2 linked regions of the Homo sapiens genome follow. The protein of the gene in region 1 interacts with the protein of each later gene in a pairwise test. Each region holds a gene or a part of one and is shown on either strand. Other genes may lie near its edges.

Region 1 (7,023 bases):
TCTCCAGGTGGAGGGAGAGGAAGTTTGTTATGGTGCAGGGCTTGCTTGTGTGTGCATGCATGTACTGTCACTGAGCATGCCTCAAGAACTTTCTGTGTGCGCAGGATCCTGGACCTTTTTGCCTAGAGGCCTGGAGTGATGGAGAGAGATGGGGAGGCCATCAGTTACAGTGCAGCACAACACCTGCTCCCTGGTGGGTACTTGGGATCAGAGAGGAGGGGCTGCTTGGTGGAGAGCAACAGAAGGCTTTGAAGGGGAAAGTTGAGCTGAGTCTTGCAGGATGGGCAGGAGTTTCCCAGTCAGAAGGGACTCTGGAATAGGGTGAAGAAGGACATTTCAGGCAGAGGAAGTAGCTTACGCAAAGGCAGGAAGCATGGGAGGATGTGGCATGTTTGGGGAGCTGCAAATAGTTTCATGTGGGTGTGTGTGGGGGTGTGGCGGGTGAGGAGGCTGGCAAGGCGGGCTGGGCCAGAGCCTGGATCTGTCCCTCCCTCTGCCATGCAGACACTCAGTTGGTGCCTGCCCACCTGGGCTCTGGCCCCTGCTGGGGCCTGAGGCTGCAGAAAGGGAGTGCAAGGTGAGTGTGTGGGCAAATTCATGCAGTATTATGTGGGCCACTCCAAAAGAGCCTTGCCTATTGGCTTGTGAATTTAGTTTCATCCTAGAGGTAAATTGGGAGCCATTGAGAGGTTCTGAGCAAGATGACCACATGTGTTCTGGTGTCTTTTGGCTACTGAAGAGGATGTTGAGCTGGGAGTCCCATAAGGCCTGCTGAAGCGTTCCCAGGAAAGACCCTGGAACTCAAACCCAGGCAAGCCAGCTGTAGAAAGGAAGAGAATAAGTGACCTTTCATCCGTTTCTCCATATGACTTATGTAGATGTTTCTTTTGCACAGCACAGGTTGGTAGGGTCAGGGACATGAAGATAGGCTTTGTGGCAGGCAGTGTCTCTTGGCTTGTCAGCAGGAGGCCTGCCAGATAACTTCCTGCCTATCTGGTCATTCTCAAGTCTTGGCGTGTGAGTAGGGCAGTTCCACCATCTAGAGACAAGAGATGGTATTGCAGTGATCTCCTGTGCCTCTGGGTGGGGTGGGAGGAGCTTCAGGCCAAAAGAAGTGACTGTGTGCAAGGTAGACTTATGGAGGGCAAGAAAGTTTACAGCAAAATACTGGGGGAGAAGAGAGTGCCACTGAGCCACGCTGAAAGGCTCTTCAAGAGGGTATTTGAACCGGAAGGACAGGCAGGGAGGAGCTGCATATTCAGAGGTTTGGGTGGTCGGGCATTCTAGGCCATGGACAGTTGTTTGGACTGTGTCATAGCTACTAATAACCACAATTATGGGGCATTTGCTGAATGCTGGACCCAGGCTAAGCTCTCGTGAAGTTTCTTGTTTAATATGGCAGTTCTGTAAGTAGATATTGAGGAACTGGGGCTCCCAGAACCCAAGGGACTTGTCTAGAATCACACGACTCAGATTCGCACCGTGGCCTGCCTCTCTCAAGCTGTGTTTCTGACCACTACACCCGGTTGCCTGCTACTAAAGCTCTGAGCCAGGTTTGGATGCCGTAGGCTTCAAGGGGGCTGCAAGGGGACCAGAGCTGCAGACAGTTGAGGGTGACCGTTAGGGTCTGCTTAGAAGTGAGAGCCTGGAATAGGTGCCCAAGTCCCAGGCAAACTGTGACTAAAAGGAAGGCCTGGGTTGGCCTGAGTAGAGGAGGCCATTCAGGGCTGAGAAACCCCCAGGGGATTTCAGAGAGGGCTTGGAAAGGGCTGTAATGGGAGGGAGAGGTGAGAACAGGTAATAATGACTTCACAGTGCTGGGAAGGAGGGCTGGGGAGAGGAGTAAGTGGAGGTAGAGGGAGAAGCCTGTTTAAACTTAGGGGTCATCCCTGTGAAGGTGAACTGCTGGCAAAAAAAATTTTTTTGCGGTGGGTAGGGAGAAAGGAGCCTTTAGAGTTGAGCAAAACCCAGGATTGAGGGTACAAGGTCTGTGCTGAATCTCTTGGATTCAAGATCATATGTCTCTGAGGGCCCAGTCTGAAGGCTGGTACAGACTTAGGCACCTGGAAAGCTGACGTGGGAAACAGGTAGCAGTAGGTGAGACAAAGTGAGGCCTCTTGATGCCAGGAGGAGAAATGAGTACTGGGCCTTGCAGCATTCATTCAGTCCTAGGAAGTGTTGGAGGCTCACATAGGAGCCTTACATGGCTGAGGTTTCTGGGAGCCAGAGGAGGGAAATTAGGTAGGGAGGCAAGCAGAGTGGGAAGTGCAGGCACTAGCAACCTACAGAGATTTGGAGGGGAACCAGTGGTCTTGGCTTTTAGCCAGGAAGGGACTTAGGAAGTGGGATAGGTCCCTGGATGGGCCATGGGTTGCAGAAGAAGTCTAGAGGCTCTGGTGATGGTAGCTGGCCCTGCCAGAGGGGTGGGGAGGATGATCTCTTCACAGAATTTCACCAGCAACCCAGATGTCAGTGATCCCAATCCTATGTCCTGACAGGTGCTTCCTGCAGCCCCTCCTCAGCCACTTGCCAGGTCCTGACCCTGCAAGCATGTGTGTAAACACACACACACGTGTTCTTGCTTTCCTAGGGCATGACCGTGGAGGGCTCTGAGCTCTTTATTACCACTCCTCAGTTTTGCTCCCTTGCCTGCCATAATTTCTCTGCCTGTAAAGCCTGCTCTTCTCCAGGAGATAGGAGGGAAATTAGCTAATAGGATTTTGCTGGACCCAGGCTGCAGGATCAGCCACTGTACAGTTCTGCTGGTGGCCCTGGGGCGTGGGGGCTGACAGAGGGTCTTATGGTGGGGTGGAAGGGCCCCCTCAGTGGAGCCATGTGGAGGGTGATGGTTCAGAGGTCCTCTCCGCCCTTCCCTCTCCTGGCCTCCAGAAGGGCAGAGACCAAGTCTAACCCCTCACTATGATCCCTGGGTTTCCACAGGGCATGGCATGTTTGTTGAAGGAATAGATGAGAGTCCTGTGGTACGATGCCACAGGCAGGGGCCATAGGTGGGTTCCAGTAAGAAAATAGCTAGCTGTGTCCTGGTATCTGGGGCTGCATGGCTTGTCAGAGCTGCTGGTTCTTTTAGGCCTGATCTGGCACAGTCCCAGGAGGAAGGAGGTCTGAGGGCCTCCTTCCTTTGGCCAACTCTCACACCCATGCTTTGCTTCCCCAGGTGCCCCCTGATAAGTGCCGATGTGCCGTGGGCAGCATCCTGAGTGAAGGTGAGGAATCGCCCTCCCCTGAGCTCATCGACCTCTACCAGAAATTTGGCTTCAAGGTGTTCTCCTTCCCGGCACCCAGCCATGTGGTGACAGCCACCTTCCCCTACACCACCATTCTGTCCATCTGGCTGGCTACCCGCCGTGTCCATCCTGCCTTGGACACCTACATCAAGGTGAGGCACAGGCCTGGGGTGTGTGTGTTGGGGACAGCCAGGCCCCTTGGGTGGAGCTGAGGAGGACTGCCTAGAATGGGAGGAAGAAGTGGTTTTGGGAGAGCAGCACCCTGGGGCCCTCATGGAACAGGTACCTGTGGAGCTAGGAAGATGGGCAGAGGTTGTTGGCATCTCTTTCAGATGCCCAAGATCTTTTGGAAGCCGGAGCATATCCCAAGAGCATGGAGAACTTGTTCATAAATCTGATCTGGTTAGTTTGGCTCTGGCTTTGACCAAAGACATCCATAGTGCTTATCCCACACTCCTGGCTCAGATGAATGGACAGGCCACTTTATTCTCATCCTGCTGGAGGCCTGCAAAGCAAGGACCTGAGGCTCCCAGTGTCTGGGCAGGCCCCAGGTAATCATGTATTGCCCGTGGCCCTGCCTGTGCATGGGCTTATACATCTGCTCCCAGAGGCCAGGGCTGGGACAGCAGTGGCAGGCTCTGTTTCCTTTACTTCCTGACTTGGTTACTGGCAATGCTGGCAGCCCAACCTTCCTGGAGGAAGGAGAGCCAGTCACCTGGTCATCTGACGGGTTTCTGTGTCTACAGAAATTTTTTTAAAACTTGCCCTGTTACACATCCCTCCTCCCCTAAACGTTTTGTAAACTTGGTTGCTAGGGAAATGACCCCAGTTTGGGCTTGGACGTGATTGTTCATTCATTTAACTTGTATTTATAGTCTGTGTGCCAGGTGCTATAATGGGCACAATGTGAATGAAACGTTGGTGCATGAAACAGCCATTCACAGTGAGGTGGTGAAGATAGGTAATAAATATCAGACAAAAATAGGACGTGTGCTAGAGAAGGAGAGGGTGAGAAAAGTCAGGGAACCAACTTGGACAGAATGGTCAGGGACAGCCTCTCAGAGGAGATAACCTCAAGGCAGAGTCCTAGAAGAGCCTTTAGAGAGGAGATAAGAACTTCTAGTCAGAGCTTTGGTCTAAATGCAGCAGGAAGTCACTGCAGTGTTCCAACCAGGAAAATAACACAGTTGGAGCCACGTCTGTACAAGATGAGCTGTCCCATCTCTGGGCAGGGTGGGACTGGACCACAGATCTGGGACCAGGTGGAGATGCTTAGGCCTGGGGCTAAGGAATTAGCCTAGGAGGCTGTCATGAATCCCATTGTGAGTGGTGGCAGCTTGGGCAGGCCCAGCGGCTATAGAGCTGTGGACAAGGATGGAGATTTACAATCACTTTTGGGATAGAACTGATAGACTTTGGGTGGATTCACTGTTGTGGAAGGAGAGGCAGTGAGGGAGTCACAGAGGGCTCTGCTCCCCTCTGGCCTGGGCAGGTGGGCAAGTATGTAGTGATGCTTTCACTGACATGTGGGGAACTGAGGGAGGCCCTGGTTTTGGGGGGAAGGTAGCTATTTGGGCTATGTCAGGGGAGCTGCCTGAGATACATCTAAGTTGGGGGGTGTGGAGTCAGCAATGGTATGTGTGGCCTGGAGTTGAGGAAAGGCTGGGCTGGTGGATATATTTGGGGACATCAGCCTGTTGGCAGTATTTGACCTGGGAGGCTGCCCTGTGCCTCCCTGCCTCTGTGGGACCAGGTAGGCAGTGGACAGCCTGTGGCAGCAAAGGCTGCGCAGAGGGCGTGGCCAGTGTGGCAGGGGTCAGGGAACAGGACGAGAGTCAGTGGGAGTGAGAGCCTGGTACACTTGGAGGATCCTTGCAACTTTGTTCACCAAAGCAGCTTGGGGAAAGGGACACAGCGTTGATGATGGAAATGGGAGTTCAGATGTCCCTGGAGTCTGGTGTTGGGGCTGAGGAATGAATAAATGAGGCCCTGGGTCACCAGCTGTGTCCTTGGCGGTCAAAGACAGGTTTGAAGAATCAGGAGTGAGAAGACCTGGAAAGGGGAGGGCTGTCACGGTGATAAGGCAAGGGCACAGGGAGAATAGAGGGGAGTTTCCTTTGTGAGCTGGAGGGTGGTGGCCAAAAGGGGTGTGGGGCAGGATGTGCTTGCCTGGCTGCGGTTGGACTGGAGGTGGGGGCGGGCTGGCTGGTGGTGTGGGCAGGAAGGAAGATACCAGTGCCCTAGGCCTGCTTAGTGTGCTGCCTCTGGGGAGTCCCGCCCCATTTCATTCAAGGAAGGCCTCTCCAGTCCTGTCGGTGCCATCCTCAACCTCATGGGCCCATCTGGAGGGGCACCCCTGGGAAAGAGACTTCTTGGGTTCCAGACCTCAGAACAGGACATGTGGCATGTGGTGTGGTGGTGAGCAACTCAGCCACCAAAGCCTTTTCCTGGCTTCAGGGGTTTATTTTTAGACACCTTTGTCCAAATTTCCCGGCCCCTGACAGCTTCACAAGTTGCCTGGTTTTGACGTCACCTCTTTGATGAAAGCCCTTCCTCCTTCCTCCCCGCTCCCATGGGAGCCTGTCAGCTGTGCTCCTGGAGTGGGGGTTGAGACAAGGAAGCCAGTGATATGGGGGAGAGCAAGGGGCTTCTCCCAGAGACAGGTGTGAGGCATGCTTGTGTGGGCTTGGCCATCAGCGGGGAGAGTAAGATAGAGGCCGGCTGCCCACAGAAGAGGCATGGCCGAAGGTCCTGGGCTTGTTTTGGCAGCAGGGTGTGGGGGTTGCCTCTGCCCCTGTGTTTAGCCTGACCTTGCGTCTTGGGGAACAAAGCCAGGGGAGAGATGAGGAAGGGGCTAGCTCTGTTTGCTGGTCACAGCCTGCAGTGGACAGGGGTGGCCCTGTGCCTCTCTCAGCCCAGGAGACAGCAAGGAGAGAGTATAAGGCTCCCTTCCATCCCTGCCTTCATCTCCCCTGCCCTGAGGTCAGAGAAAGGAGATTACTAATGAGACTAGTTGCGTCTCACTCTTCTAGCACCGACAGCTTTTAACTGTGTGTGCGTGCGCGTGTGTACACCCTTCTTTTTCTCTCTGGATCTGGGACTGCTGTGAAGGCTCTTCAAATGGAATGACAGCAGCCGTCAGCTTTCTGCTTTGGCAGGGGTGAGAGAGGCCAGGAGCCCTGCTGCCAGGAGTTGCGGGGGGAGGACTTGGCAGGCTCACCAGCCTCTCCAGAGGCTAGGTGAGGGGCAGGGGTGAATGGATCTTAGCTTCGGGTTTGGGAGGTGGAGAGCAGCTGCTGTCCCGGGAGTTGCAGATGTGCCTGAGCCTGGAACAGGATTGGTCTCATGGGACAGAGGGACCTGAAGTTCACGGCGAGAGGCCCAAGGAGAAGCACTTGTCAGGACTCTCGGGATTCTGGAAGGGATGGCTGATCTCAGCTTTCCTGGTTTGCATGGCAGCCTCTGGCTCTCTGGCTAGCCTTCCCCAGCTTGGCAGCCTGGCAAACTGCTATAGATGCTGGAACTCTGCCTTTCTCCATATAAACTGCTAAGGGCCCCCAGGCTGAACACTCATTCCCCTGGAATCCATGCGTACTGTGTGACCATCACTCCATATGGAAGATGCCTCAGCTTTGTCAGGCTGCTCCGCTGGAGTCCAAGGAGGTGGCCTCTAGTACAGGAGGAGACCACTCCCCAAGTCCCAGGAAAGGGGTATCTTCTGGAAGCTGCAGGATGGAACAGAGCTTGCTTGAAATTGCAAACCTGCAGAGGGGAGATG
Region 2 (7,023 bases), on another chromosome or scaffold:
CCTGGCAGCTCTGTGGATGCCCTCCTGAAGGATAGTAACTGACCGCTAATTAGATGGGCTTGTGACTGCCAGTCCGCTGCAGTCCCCACCTGGCCCACTGCCTGCACCTTTGTGACCCCTCCAGCTCCTGGGGCCCCTGCTTTTGAGGCCTGGGGACAGGTCCAAGGCCTCACCAGCTCCTCTTAGCACAGAGCCATGGGCCCAGTGGTGGGTGCCCCATGGATCCCAAGGTGTGAGTCTAGAAACTGAACTCAGCTCCACTGCCCTCTGCACTGCAGGGGCAAAGGGCCTCAAAGAGCATGTTGATCAGTTCCCCCATGGTGCAGATGAGGAGACTGAGGCCCTGGGAGAGATCGGGCCTGCCAAGATCACACACATAGCAGGCAGGGCAGAGCCCAGACTAGACCCAGGGCTACTGTGAATCACTGGGCAGGTGGTGGCCTGAACAAGGACACCTGGCTGGGCAGCAGGTGGGGGCTGAAATCCAACACACCCTCCACTCTCCAGGCTGCGCACCCCGCATGCGGACGGGGTGACCTTCTTTACTTTGCCTCAAGGTGCCATGTGGGCTCGTGTTGGCCCAGGCTCAAGTAAGGCATCCTGCCTCCTGGTCCAGTTCTCCCTCTCCTTTCTCAGGCCCCCTCTCTCATTTCACTTCCCCTCTCTCTCTCTAGGCTTCAGTTTACTTCTCTGTGCCATGAGCTAGCTGGATCTGAGGATTCTTCTGGTCTTGACATATTTGGTCTAGATTTTCCTAGAAATCCCTCCTCTCCCCACCTCTCTCCAGCCCCAATATGTGTAGCCGGGGAGCTGGCATCACCCCTGCTCCCACAGCCGCCACTCACAGCTCCAGAGAGGTGCGGTTCTCCCTATCACGGATGGTGTAGAGGCCGTAGCTGTTGGCACTCCCAGTGCCGATGACCATCAGGGCGGGCAGGCCTGGGCACAAGGGGAAATGGCATGACACCACTGGGGCTTACTGGCACTTCCTCCTCCACGTCCCCTCCAGATGGCCATCCCTCCAGCTCTGGGAACCCCTCCTCTCTCTCCCCAAGGCTATTTCCCTCTGCACCCTCAGGGCCGGCCGTTTATTCTGTCCATCCAGGCAGCACCTACCCCAGCCCACCAGGCTCAGCTTCAGGAAGTAGTGCCCGAAGTAGGTGTTGAAGACCCTGACAGCGAGCAGGTAGAGGTGGAAGGCTTCAAGGCCCATCCAGGTGAAGGCACAGAGCAGGAAGTAGTGGAAGACAGCCCCCCGGGCCCAGCAGGCAGCATCAGACCCCTTTGAGCCACTCCCCACATTGACCAAGAAGGCCAGATTCAGGAGGAACAGGCTGCCACCCAGGGCCACGTGGATCTTTGGGGCATCTTCTGACTTGAACCTCTCCCGGGAAAGCCTGGGGTGAGAAATAAGAGGCCCCAAGGGGCCACAGCTCCCATGGGGAGCTCCCATGAGGCACCCAAGCCTGTCCACCCCAATAGCCTATGGCTCTCCACCCCCACTGCCAGCTCCTGCCTGCTCATCCAGCTTCCATCCCTGCCGGCAGCCAGAGTGGGAGTGTCCTGAGGTTCAAGTCCAGGAGCCTCTCATGGCCCACGGGGCCCTGTGGGTTCCGGATCCTGCCAGCCTCATCCCTTGATCAATGTGAGGCAGGATAATAGGGAAAATGAGGCCAGAAAATGAGGCAGGAGAATAGCAAAGGGAATTAAAAGTTGGATAAAGGGCAGAATAAGTAAAAGCAGAGAATAGAAGCACGGTGAATGGGACGGGTGAGCAAGAAGTGAGATGAAAAGCAGAGGTTCAGCAGGCAAGACAAAAGTGACATAAAAAAGGGACCCCGTGGCCGGCAAGATCCGGACCAAACCAGTAAGGGGCAGCTCTTCAGAGATGGGCATTTACATTAGAGAGAAAAAGTTTCTTTCACATAACCCTGTATGATAATTAGCTACTTAAGGTTCATGCATATGGGCTGCATATCATGCATGTACTTAAAATTATGGGATGGAGGTGACACACAAACGTACACGGGCCCAAAGTAACTGAGCAACACACCTATCAGTCAAAAGCCAGACACTGGCTAGAGATTAGGCAGCCTTGGGAAGAGAAGAAAAAAAACACCTGGAATGACCCAAACTATACCAAGGTGAGGCTGATCTCATTTCGCAGAGGTCAGCTCTTCCCACTGTTCTCAATGCCTTTCCCTGCTCCCCAGCTCCTCCCACCTTCTTTGCCTGACTCCTCTTCTTCTGCCTTTCAAATGCCCCTTGGAGGTTTCCTTCTGGGGAGGCCATCTCTGAATGCCCCTTAGCCTGAGCTGAACTGGACATTTCCCAGCAGCATAGTGTAACTCCCCATCCTCTCTCTCCTCGGGTCTTTCCCATGCTGTGAACTTCAGGCCTAACAGTGGTGGGACCAGGGATCCATTGGTGAAGTGGATGGACAGATGGGTGGATGCATGAAGCCGAAAATGCAGTAGGAGAGTGAGGCTTAGAGAGGGACGGGAGCCTTATGGGGTCACAGAGCAGGGCAGGGGCTCCAACCCTGGGCTCCAGACTCCCTGTCCAGTGACTCACCAGGCTCACCTCCCTCTCTCTGGAGCCCCCACTCTGAATTCTTAGCAAACCAGATCCAAAAGGGCTCTCAGCCGAGGGAGGGGAGCCGGGGGCTTCCTGGAGGAGCATCTGGGATCATGTCCACCTCACCTGAGATGCCAGGCCCCACCCTGGGGAGCTGGTGGTAATTTCTCCTGGCGCTCCAAGCCCCGCTCACAGGGTCCAGCAATGCGGCCAGCTGGCAAGTCACACTCGGCTTGTTGGGGATGGGGACCATGTCCTAGGCCAGGGCTTGGAGGGTGGGGGTGAGGGGCACCATTTACACTCATGGGTTGGTCTGTGATGGATTGGGTGGGCCTAGTTGGGGCTGCAGCCTAGGGCCAAATGCTGACACAGAGGCACGTGGAGAGGGCGGAGGGACGGCCCTGGATGCGGGGGCAGGAGACCCAAGGGCTGCTTTAGGCCACCCCCAGGGACCCCCAGGAGGCAGGGGACAGGACAAGCTGGAGCACTGGCAGCTCCCCTAGGCTCCTTCAAGCTGGCAGATCCTGTGGGTCCCTCAGCCATGGCCTGGGCCCAGGCTGCAGTGCTCTCTGCTGTTTCTGCCTGTCCTGCACTCACTCCCACCTCTTCTGGACACAGCCCCAGGTTTCCCTAAGGAACGCCCGTCCCCACTCTCATAAGTCAGGGGCCAGGGGTTCTTTGTTAGCTCAAACCCAAGAGCAGACACATGGCCTGGCCGGCCAATCTGTGTATTCCAGCTCTTGACCACAGTGACCCAGACAGGCATGGGCACATGGTCCAAGTTAGACCAGTAAGACTCAACTCTGGTGTATACACGGGATAAAACTGCATAGGCTGATATACACAGACATGCACACACATGCTCACACAGGGCCAGTTTCATGAGCATGTGACCTCTGTAGGACCCCATACGCAGAAGGACTTAATGTTCTACTGTCGCCATCTTGACATTCTTAAAATTTTTTGAATAAGGGGCCATATATTTTCTTTCTCTCTCTCTCTCTCTTTTTTTTTTTTTTTTTTTTGAGACGGAGTTTTGCACTTGTTGTCCAGGCTGGAGTGCAATGGTGTGATCTCGGCTCACTGCAACCTCCGCCTCCTTGGTTCAAGCGATTCTCCTGCCTCAACCTCCTGAGTAGCTGGGATTACAGGCGCGCACCACCACGCCCAGCTAACTTTTGTTTTGTATTTTTAGTAGAGATGGGCTTTCACCATGTTGGCCAGACTGGTCTCGAACTCCTGACCTCAGGTGATCTACCTGCCTCGGCCTCCCAAAGTGCTGGGATTACAGGCATGAGCTACTACGCCCAGCCTTCTTTATTTTCATTTTGGACTGGGCCAATCAAATGATATGTCCTGCGCGCACGCACGCGCGCACACACACACACACACACACACACACAGACACACACACAGACACACACATGAATGTACATAAAAAATGGTGAAAACTGAGCAAAGTCTGTATTCTAGTCAACAGTACTGTACCACCAGCTGCTGGTTTTGATATTGAACTACAGTTGTCTATGATGTATCCACAGGGGGAATCTGGGAGAACGAACCACAGGACTCTGCACTATTTTTGCATCTTTCTGTTTTATCTCAAAATAAAATCCTTCTCAATCCTGGGATTCATCTTAGAATACTTGGAAAGAGGAGATCTCTTTTATTTCTGCCTAAGCAGCTAAGGAGCTATGATGCAATCCTGAGGCAGCCAGGGCCCCTGAGGGTGGTAAAGCTGCCCGATGTGACTGTCAAGGGGCGAGCAAAGCTGTGAGAGGTAGAGGGAGACCAAGTTCTGGGGACCTCTTTTGACCCCCTGGATCGAACCCTGCCAGAAGTCCATGCACCTTGGGTTTTTCAATTACATGAACCCTATTTGCTATTTGCTATTCTCAGTTACGTGAACCACACATTCCCTATTATGTTTAAGCCAATTTGAGTTGAGTTTCTGCCACTTGCTCCTGAAATAGCTCTGACACATTTCAACCCCCAACCCCATTTTGGGATGAGGACACTAACGTGTGGAGGGGACAACGGTCAGAGGCTGCACAACCTGAATGCTTCCCACCCTGCCCTGCTGCCTCCCTTGAGGGCGGGAGGGAGACATGGTGGGGAGGTGGGGATCACTCACCTCAGAAAGGCATAAAGAATAATGGTGAAGGCCAGGAAGATCATGGAGACCCCACAGCCCGCCTGGGAGATGCGTGTGAGGATATGCACCGTGGACTGGTCCAAGGTGGGTCTCTGTGGGTGACCCCAGAACCGGGACCACGTCAGTTGGAGGCCAGGCCCATATACCCAAAGACCACCAGGCAGCCCCCTCCCCAGGGCAGGAGCTGGAAGCCCCTGGGATGGCTGGGATCAGAGTGGAGGGGGCTGTTACCAGGAGCAGGGCGAAAAAGGTCAGGTGGTCACAGCAGCACACGGTCCCCTCAGGTCTGACCTCCGTGGAGCAGCCCTCAGAAGACCAGTCTCCAGTGGTCCCTGGAGAGGAGGCCAGGGGAACAGAGGGAAAGGGAATATAGGGAGGGGAGGGCAAGGGAGGGGAGAGGAGGGGAACAGAGGGGAAGGGAATATAGGGAGGGGAGGGTAAGGGAGGGGAGAGGAGGTGAACAGAGGGGAAGGGAATATAGGGAGGGGAGGAGAGGAGAGGGGAGGGGAGGGGAGGGGAACAGAGGGGAAGGGAATATAGGGAAGGGAGGGGAGGAGGAAGGGGAGGTGAGGAGGGGGGGGAGGGGAGGGGAAGGGAGGGGATGCAGGGAGCAAAGAGGAGGGGAGGGGAGGGGAGAGGAAGGCAGGGGAGGGACTCAGCCAGTGGAGCTAGCCCCGCCCCACAATGCAGCCCATACCCTCCCTTCCTGTCTTACCCCAGAGAAGGTCCTCCGGGCCCTACCTTTAGTCACATCCCAGAATACACAGGTGAGGGTCATGTTCTGAAACCGAAGAGTGGAAGTCAGGAGAGAGGAAAAGGGAAGTTTGGGGGAGGGCAGGGGAAGCGGGAGGACGGTGTGCTCCCCCGAGTCCTAGTGTGAGTGTGCATTAGGTAGAAAGCAAGGTTCACACCCATGGGCCACACAGAAAAATTAAGTGCACCATTTGATGAGCCCTGGGCCGGCGTGTGAAGCGTGCGACTGTGGTGTGGGGCTGTGGGCAGGAGGGTTTGCCTGTCTGCATGCATGTGTGCGTGTCAGGGGAGCATGGGTGTGGAGGATGTGGAATGCCATGTGTATGCAGGTGGGCTTGCCAGGTCCTCATGTGCACCTCTATGGTGTGTGGCCTTGGATCCAATTATGTGTATGGCCCTAATGGCTCCTCCTGGGCGACTGTGGAAGGGTAGGGGACAGATATGTAGTGTCCCATGCAGGGCCCATGGGCCCAGGTGTGCCCACTCGCCTGTCTGCCCTGCAGTGGCTGCCAGGCCTGAGCAGGGGACTCACAGGGGGCGGTCGCTGGTGAGAGAAGACGATCTCCAGAGGCTCAGCCAGCTTGGTGACATGCATTTGTCCCACACTCAAACCCACCAGGCGATTGTTCAACACGCCGCTGCCATCTCCCAGGCCGAGCCGGGGGCCCTGTGAAAGGGGAGATCGGGGAGGCCAGGCTGCAGAAGGGGCCATCCCAACCCACCAACGCTGGGGTTCCTAGGAGCCTCCAGGAACCCATGGCCTTTGCTTGGAGGGCAGAGTTCGAGACCAGGGGACCAGGGAGCCAAGGAGTCACAGGCAGCCTCCTCCCTGCTGCTCCCAGTGGTCTCCTGCTTGGGCTGGGCCAGGTCAACTGGCTGCAAAGCTGTGCACCTGACAGCTCTCCATTGCTGGCCTCCAGAGCTCCTCTGCCCTCTTAACTAGAGGGGGCATGGGGCCAAGATCAGCCAAGAAATGGAAGTCAGCGGGGAGGATAGCGTGCCCCTGAGGGTCTTAGCGTGAGTGTGCATTCGGTAGAAAGGAGGCTGGTGGGGGGAGCACACTAGCCCTCAGGGGTACACACGTCTGCACAGGAGTGGATGCACACCTCTGGGTGCACATACCTGGTATACACATGTGCAAGGGCATGGGTACACTTGCTCGTGTGGATATGATCACAGCTGAGTACATGGGCTTGTGCGTGCACAAGAATAGAAAAGGATGTGCATGTTTGTGCATGCACGAGGACACACAGAGCACACGAGCACCCACAGGACACATAGACAAGCCAAAGGGCACTCATGTGTGGGGGTCAAACATCTGAGAGCGTGTGACCAGTGTGAGTCTGAAGACCATAGACTCTAGTGACAGGTGTCTGAGATGGCCACGGGCTGCATTAGAAACACTAAGAGGCTCACTGCCTGCTCTGTCCCCATTGGATCCCTCGGCAGGCTCCAGTGACAGCAAACTGTGGCATGGAGCCCCCAGAGGACCTAGCACTTAACCTTGGAGCTTCCCTGAGTCCTCACCTTGAAGAGAG

What was found.
Region 2: the proteins of TEX264 (region 1) and ADGRG3 interact in binary tests that used the Homo sapiens proteins (3 or more experiments, as listed by UniProt).

Annotation. Positions count from the first base shown.
Region 1 is NC_000003.12:51,681,238-51,688,260, forward strand, and holds part of TEX264 (testis-expressed protein 264), read left to right. Parts: intron 1-104; exon of another isoform or gene 105-148; coding exon of another isoform or gene 149-193; intron 194-3,175; coding exon 3,176-3,397; intron 3,398-3,577; coding exon of another isoform or gene 3,578-3,637; exon of another isoform or gene 3,638-7,023. UniProt on the Homo sapiens protein: Major reticulophagy (also called ER-phagy) receptor that acts independently of other candidate reticulophagy receptors to remodel subdomains of the endoplasmic reticulum into autophagosomes upon nutrient stress, which then fuse with lysosomes for endoplasmic reticulum turnover.
Region 2 is NC_000016.10:57,678,306-57,685,328, reverse strand, and holds part of ADGRG3 (adhesion G protein-coupled receptor G3 isoform 1 precursor), read right to left. Parts: coding exon 7,013-7,023; intron 6,153-7,012; coding exon 6,018-6,152; intron 5,514-6,017; coding exon 5,474-5,513; intron 5,065-5,473; coding exon 4,964-5,064; intron 4,825-4,963; coding exon 4,712-4,824; intron 2,845-4,711; coding exon of another isoform or gene 2,704-2,844; intron 1,398-2,703; coding exon 1,117-1,397; intron 940-1,116; coding exon 846-939; intron 1-845. UniProt on the Homo sapiens protein: Adhesion G-protein coupled receptor (aGPCR) for glucocorticoid hormones such as cortisol, cortisone and 11-deoxycortisol.